Linked DNA regions of Homo sapiens. The protein of the gene in region 1 interacts with the protein of each later gene in a biochemical or structural test. Each region holds a gene or a part of one and is shown on either strand. Other genes may lie near its edges.

The links.
Region 2: the proteins of ATF7 (region 1) and CEBPG interact in a test that uses a peptide from one of them, tested with the Homo sapiens proteins (one large-scale study listed by IntAct).

The regions. Positions count from the first base shown.
Region 1 is NC_000012.12:53,518,350-53,521,998, forward strand, and holds part of ATF7 (cyclic AMP-dependent transcription factor ATF-7), read right to left. Parts: intron 1-3,649. UniProt on the Homo sapiens protein: Stress-responsive chromatin regulator that plays a role in various biological processes including innate immunological memory, adipocyte differentiation or telomerase regulation.
Region 2 is NC_000019.10:33,372,128-33,375,876, reverse strand, and holds the start of CEBPG (CCAAT/enhancer-binding protein gamma), read right to left. Parts: upstream 2,169-3,749; 5' UTR 1,982-2,168; intron 1,765-1,981; exon of another isoform or gene 1,264-1,764; intron 1-1,263. UniProt on the Homo sapiens protein: Transcription factor that binds to the promoter and the enhancer regions of target genes. Binds to the enhancer element PRE-I (positive regulatory element-I) of the IL-4 gene. Binds to the promoter and the enhancer of the immunoglobulin heavy chain.

The DNA of each region.
Region 1 (3,649 bases):
AAAACATTATAAGTTATGCCACTCCACCTAAAGTGACACTAACATTTTACTACTAAACACAACTACCTGAGCTACATACAATGGTAACTCCATGTTGCTCATTAGTCAAATGTTTTTAAAATTTTTTTAGAGGGTCTCACTCTGTCACCCAGGCTGGAGGTGCCATGGCACAATCACAGCTCACAGCAGCCTTCAACTGCTGGCCTCAAGCCATCCTCCTGCTTCAGACTCCCAAATTGCCGGGATTACAGGTATGAGTCATCACACTCAGCAAGTCAAGGAGTTTTATTAAACATCGGATAGCCTCTATGGCTGCTTAAACAGAAATATGTGGAAAAAAGGCAAACGTTCCATAGTCAGTTGTATTTCTGACATCCTGATGAATGCCTGAGTCTTCTTTTAAGATTCAAATATGGCCGGGCGCAGTGGCTCACGCCTGTAATCCCAGCACTTTCAGAGGCCAAGCTGGGCGGATCAGGAGGTCAGGAGATCGAGACTACCCTGGCTAACATGGTGAAACCCCGTCTCTACTCAAAAAAAAAAAAAACCAAAAAATTAGCTGGGCATGGTGGCGGGCGCCTGTTGTCCCAGCTACTTGGGAGACTGAGGCAGGAGAATGGTGTGAACCCGGGAGGCAGAGCTTGCAGTGAGCCGAGATTGTGCCACTGCACTCCAGCCTGGGCAACAGAGCGAGACTCCGTCTCAAAAAAAAAAAAAAAAAGATTCAAATATTGCGTCCTCTGTGAAGCCATCTTTGTTACCCTCAGTACATTAACTGTTTTATTCTTTGTGTTTTCACAGCATATATTCATCAAACATTTTACTGAGCATCATCCATGTACCAGGCATGGGTACACAGAGAAGAAAACGGGAACCCTATCCTTAGGAAGCTCCCAGTTTAGGGGCTTTTTAACTGGGATATCTATCCTTACCTCATCCACAGGTTTATATGACCCTATGATTCTCTCAGAGGTAGTGACAGTGTCTTATTCATCATGTGTCAGGTACTTACATAATATCTATACCACACAGCAGGAACTAAATACATCTTTGCTATAATGAATATGTAAGGCCGGGTGCGGTGGCTCACACCTGTAATCCTAGCACTTTGGGAGACAGAGGTGGGCAGATCACATGAAGCCAAGAATTGGAGACTAGCCTGGGGAACATGGTGAAACCCCGTCTCTACTAAAAATACAAAAATGAGCTGGGCGTGGTGGTGCCCGCCTGTAGTCCCAGCTACTCGGGAGGCTGAGGCAGGAGAAAAAAAAAGAATAAGTAGTTTAATGGATTAACTATGTATCAGAGTTCTTGCAGGGACTAAGTGGAAAACTGACCGTATATAGATTATATACTGATAAACAGTCCTTATCCTCTTTAGCCCATCAACAGGATTTGTTTTTTTGGTATTTTTTTAGACAGAGTCTTGCTCTATCACCCAGGCTGGAGTGCAGTGGCACTATTTTGGCTCACTGCAATCTCTGCCTCCTGGGTTCAAGCGATTCTCCTGCCTCAGCTTCCCAACTAGGTGGGACTACAGATGCACGCCACCATGCCTGGCTGATTTTTTTTATTTTTAGTAGAGATGGGGTTTCACCGTGTTAGCCAGGATGGTCTCGATCTCCTGACCTCGTGATCCGCCCGCCTCAGCCTCCCAAAGTGCTGGGATTACAGGCGTGAGCCACCGAGCAACAGGATTTAAAATCACTGAACTTCTTGAAACACTTTTTTATTTTGATTTACAGAATACCACATTTGGCTCTGTAGCTGGTTTTCCTCCTCACTTCCTGGTTGTTTCTTCTCAGTCTCTTGTGGGTTCTTTCTCATTTCTATGAACTGTAAATGTTGGAGTACCCCATGGTTCATTCCTGGGACTTCTCTTTTTCTAGCTCTGCTGTCTCCCTTGGGAACTTCATCTGGTTTCAATGCTTTAAAAACTAACTATGGCCAGGTGTGGTGACTCACACATGTAATTCCAGCACTTTGGGAGGCCAAGGCGGGCAGATCCCTTAAGTCCTGGAGTCTGAGACCAGCCTGGCCAATATGGCAAAACATCATCTCTAAAATAACAAAAAAAAATTAGCTGGGCATGGTGGTGCACGCCTGTGGTCCCAGTTACTCAGGCTGAGTGGGGAGGATCACTTGAGAGCCTGGGAGACAGAGGTGGACCCTGCCTCCAAAAAATCCCAAACCAAACAAAACCAAAACTAGCTATATGCTGCCGACTCCCAGAGTTTTATCTTCAGCCTTTCCTCTGAATTACAAATCCATATAACCAACTGACTGCTTGACATCTCCACCTGTAAGCCTAATAGGCTCCTTAAACTCAGTTTGTCCAAAACTGAGTTCCTGATATACCTCCCAAACCATTTCCCCTACACTTTACCCTATCTCAATTAATGACAACTTCATTCTTGTGGTTGCTTAAGCCAGAAACTTTGGTGTAATTTTTTATTCTTTTTCTCATATATACCATCCCATCTGCTCTCATCACTTTAACTTCAAAACATATCCTGGATTCAGCCTGCTCTCGTCACTTTCACTACCGTCATCCCTTGCTTGTATTACCGTAACAGCCCCTAAGTGGACTGCCTGCTTCTGCCCTTGTACCCCTGATGTCCTGTTCAAATGTAAGTCAGATCAATTTTTTTTTTTTTTTTGAGACGGAATTTCCCTCTTGTTGCCCAGGCTGGAGCGCAATGGCACCATCTCAGCTCACTGCAACCTCCGCTTCCCAGGTTCAAGTGATTCTCCTGCCTCAGGCTCCCAAGTAGCTGGGATTACAGGCGCATGCCACCACGCCCAGCTAATTTTTTGTATTTTTAGTAGAAGCAGTTTCACCATGTTAGCCAGGCTGGTCTCGAACTCTCGACCTCAGGTGATACGCCTGCCTTGGCCTCCCAAAGTGCTGGGATTACAGGCATGCGCCCAGCCTAGTCAGATCAATTATATCACTTTTCTGCTGAAAACCCTCTAATGGCCCCCAGTGTGGAGTAAAAGCTGAGATCCTCACCATGACTGATGAGACCCTACATAAAATGCTGCTATTACGTCCCCTACTTGTCTCCAACTACTCTCCACCCCCAACTCCAGCTGAGCCTCCTTGATGTTCCTAGATGTACCAGGTACCTTGCGACTTTGCATCTTTGCAGTTGCTGATCCTCCTCCCTATAGTACTTTTCTTCCATATAAATGCATATAGCTCCCTCACTTCCTTCAGGTCTTTATTCAAAAGCCACCTAATCTAAAATTTCTATCCTGCTGCTAACATTTCATATTACCCTTCCCTGTTTTATTTTTCTTCTAACATTTACTGTTATCTAACATGTCATATATTTTACCTATTTATCTTGTTTATTGTCTGTCTCACCCACTAAAATATAAGCTCCTCAAGGGCAGGGATTTAATCTAATTTATTTGGTTCCCTATTATATCCCCAGCATGAAAAACAGTGACTGGCACAGAATAGACATTCCATCAATATCTGCTTAATGAATGAATGCACCCTGAAGTACATATTAAAATTAAAATTTAAGTAGAGATGTTTAAAATTGGTGATATAGTTACTCCTTTTCTATGGGAACACATCTCTGAAATAATACAGTGGAAAAATAATACAATATATCAAAGTTTGAGAGCAATAGTTCTA
Region 2 (3,749 bases), on another chromosome or scaffold:
CAGGATCAAATCCAAGGTCCTGACCCTCTCTCCTCCCTCACACCACATCTTGACAGTACTAAACCACTATCTGTATCCTAAATGGTCTGTGCTTTCTCTTTTCTTTGGGCATCTGGGAAAATTTGTTCCCTAGGTCTGTCAACTCCAGCCGCATCGTGTCTCCCTGCAGATCTTCACAAGCATCTAGCGCAGGGTCCATGAGGAAGGGGACGTCCCCTTTCTGGGAGTACAGAAGTGGGTCACTGGAGCATTAGAAGAACATCAACATCATCTTTCTAACCCAATCCTTTTGAAGTGATTTACAACACACAAAACAAATAGACTATTTGTAAATGAACATCCATTAGGAGGTCATGCTCATTTTTGTCTTTTTTTTACTGATAGAGCTAGAAAGCCACAAACGCAGGAGGCCAGTGTACCTATCAATATAACAACCCATGGAACCAACCCTCCCAAGAACGCACAATACAGCTGGAATCGTGGCTACCTGTATTTACCATTACTGTGACCAAGTGAGGCAATCTTAGACCACGAGACCAAATTCAGCCCCACGAGGTCCTATTTGTCTTTACCAGGGGCTCAGCACATAGTGTTTAATTTCCCAGGGATGAAACCATCTCTCCAAGATCAGACAGCCTTGCAGACAGACATGATGTGATCTTGAGAATTTAAAGGATATTCTCAATGAAGTTTTGTTTCCATCTACTTTTTTTAAAAGCAGGTATTAAAAATAACTGAACCAGCCAAGTGTGCCCACCAAAAGCAGGAATCAAGAAGCTGAAATATGCTTCAGCTCCCTTGTACCCTGTAATTATTTAGCCTTGTTTACAGCAACTTTTTCCAGAAGCAGAATCGACCTTATGAACAGCTTATCCCAAATACTACTCAAGGGCTAACAGATGACCACATCTTAAATATCAAGAGCTTCTAGGTGTAGAATGTCTTCGTAAAGCAAGCCCTTATAGGATTTTCTTTTAAAATTTTCTCTGGGAGTCACATTTCTTTGGGAGAAGTCTGCCTTAAGTGACAACCTATTCATATAAGCAGTCAATTCTGACACAACTACCAATTTTGGTGTCACCCATCAACATTGAGACCTTTCTAAATCTTATACATTTCAGGATGCCAGATTACAGTATAAACTTCAAACAAGAGGAAAACCCAACACGTAAACCTGCGGAAGAGAAGCAACACACCAGCTGCCCTGGAAAACACTCTCCTCCCCCCGCGACACATGCATTTCCATCCTTCGCATCTGGTCACCTCCGCTGGCTGTCGGCCCTGCTCCGCTCCCTCCAACTATGCCTGCGAAGTGCTTCATTTCTTCTCTATTCGACCCGTAGGTGTTGCGTGTTCTTCTAAACTACGTTCAACAGTAAAGTGCAGGACATTCCAACAGCTCCACAAAGAAGCAAAATATTATCTCTGCAAAGTCATGCATTTAAAAACCAGTTGCTTTCCCTATTTTATTGATCAGTCTTTGAACTTCTGAACAGATTTTCGATCACCGCAAGCTGAGCCCTTCTAGAAGATCAGGATTCTAAAGCTCGACTCGGTCCACCTTCTGCTATTCTGGGAACACCCTTCATCCCCAGGGGCCAATGCGAGCCTGGCGGGTCACAGCGCCCGTTTCACCGAGAGGGGGCCGGGCTCCGCAGGGGGCATTCCCCGGCCGTTCGCGCGCTCCCGGCCCGCCGCGAGGGGCGCCCCGGGCAGCGCGGGGGTCGACGGGCGGCGCCGCAGCGCTGGGCCGCGGCCAGGAATGAGCTCAGCGTCCCCGCCGGGTGTTGCCGGCAGGTTGCATCAGACGCCGCGCGGCGCCGCCGCCCGCGCCTCCAGCCTCGCGTGGCCTTCCCGGGCCAGCGGGCCGTCTGGGGCCGGGGCTGGGTTTCCCCGAGCCGGGCCCGCACCCAGTCGAGCGGCCGGCGTCGCCGCGGCCTCCTCCTCCCCGTTCTCAGGGCGCCCGCCGCAGCCTCCTTACCTGCTCCTCTAGCCCGCCTGCCCCCAGGCGGCCTCCACTCCGAGCGGCCCCGCGCGGTGCGGCCCGAGCCGACCCAGGCCTCACAGCCCGCGAGTCAGCGAGGAGGAGCGACGGTTACGAAACCGGCAGCCTCCGCCCGTTCCGCAGCCGCGGCCACCGGCTTCCCCTGCTCGCCGGGGCCGCGCGCGCCGCCGCCGCCATCCCGGCCAATGGGAGCGCCGGCCTGCCGGAGGCACCGCCTTCTCTCGCGACGGGCAGCCCAGTCGACCAATCGTGGGCAGGCTGGCGGCGGGAGGCGGGCCCACGGTGGGGGAGTGGGTTCCGCGCGGCTGGCTCGGCGGGTGTGGCGGGAGCAGGGAGCTGCTTGCTGCGGCGTCCGCGGTCCCTAGGCAGCTCGCCCGGGCTGGCGGCGGCCTAGTGCTGTGGACGACTCAAGTTCGAGTCGGAGGCTGAAAAGCCGTCACCTTGTGGAGGCCAGACGTGCCTTTGGAAGCATTTTCTGAGGTGGTTTTGTGAACCACCGGCGACTGTTTTGGTTTCGCCGCGTCCCTTGGAAGCCCCCGCGGCGTCCCTCACAGAGTTTCTGCGAACGGAACGCCCCGCAGGCGGGCGGGCTTTGTCGCCGCAAAAAGAGTGGAGGCTGACGCGGTGGCTCCCGCCTATAATCTCAGCGCCGAGGGAGGCCGAGGCGGGAGAATGGCTTGAGCCCAGGCGTTGGAGAACCAGCCTGGACAACATAGCGAGACCCCATCTCAGTTACTAATTTTTAAAAAATCGAATGAACCCAGATGTTTCACACATAGGATTAGCATTGATGTCACATGGGTGAAATCCATGTGCTGCAGGCTGTGCTTTGTTGTTAGGGTGAGATGAAGTGAATTTCTTAAAATGATTCTCTTTGGGTGCCTTCCAGGTGCATGGGTGCGAGGTGATCTCTGAAAATAAGCAGCGATCCAGTGTGACTTAAAACTCGCCAGGAGAACCCGAAAGCGTTTTTTTTTTTTTTTTTTTTGAGACGGAGTCTCGCTCTGTCGCCCAGGCTGGAGTGCAGTGGCGCAATCTCGGCTCACTGCAAGCTCCGCCTCCCGGGTTCACGCCATTCTCCTGCCTCAGCCTCCCAAGTAGCTGGGACTACAGGCGCCCGCCACTACGCCCGGCTAATTTTTTGTATTTTTTTAGTAGAGACGGGGTTTCACCGTTTTAGCCGGGATGGTCTCGATCTTCTGACCTCGTGATCCGCCCGCCTCGGCCTCCCAAAGTGCTGGGATTACAGGCGTGAGCCACCGCGCCTGGCCCCGAAAGCGTTTTAACACCAGGAAGCAGCAGCTCGCTGGGCGGAGGGCAGAACTCGCCTGATAGGTTTAATTGCTTCCTCTTTAGCAACGCGTATCGTTCAAACAATTGAGGCTTTGAAAGAGGAAATGTTTCTTCAGCGCCCATGGAACCGGCTCGCCCCGTAAGATTGTTTCGAGGAATCAGTAAGATGATAAAGCAATAAATAAAAATTAAAAGGGGTCACAACGGTGAACAATGGGCTGGGCGCGGTGGCTCAGGTCTGTAATCCCAGCACTCTGCGAGGCCGAGGCAGGCTGATCACTTCAGGTCGGGAATTAGAGACCAGCCTGGGCAACATGGAAAAACCCCATCTCTACCAAAAATACAGAAGATTAGCCGGGTGTGGTGGCGCTGTGCCTGTGGTCCCAGCTACTCTGGAGTCTGAGATGGGAGGATGGCTTGAGCCTGAGAGGCGGAGGTTGCAGTGAGCTGA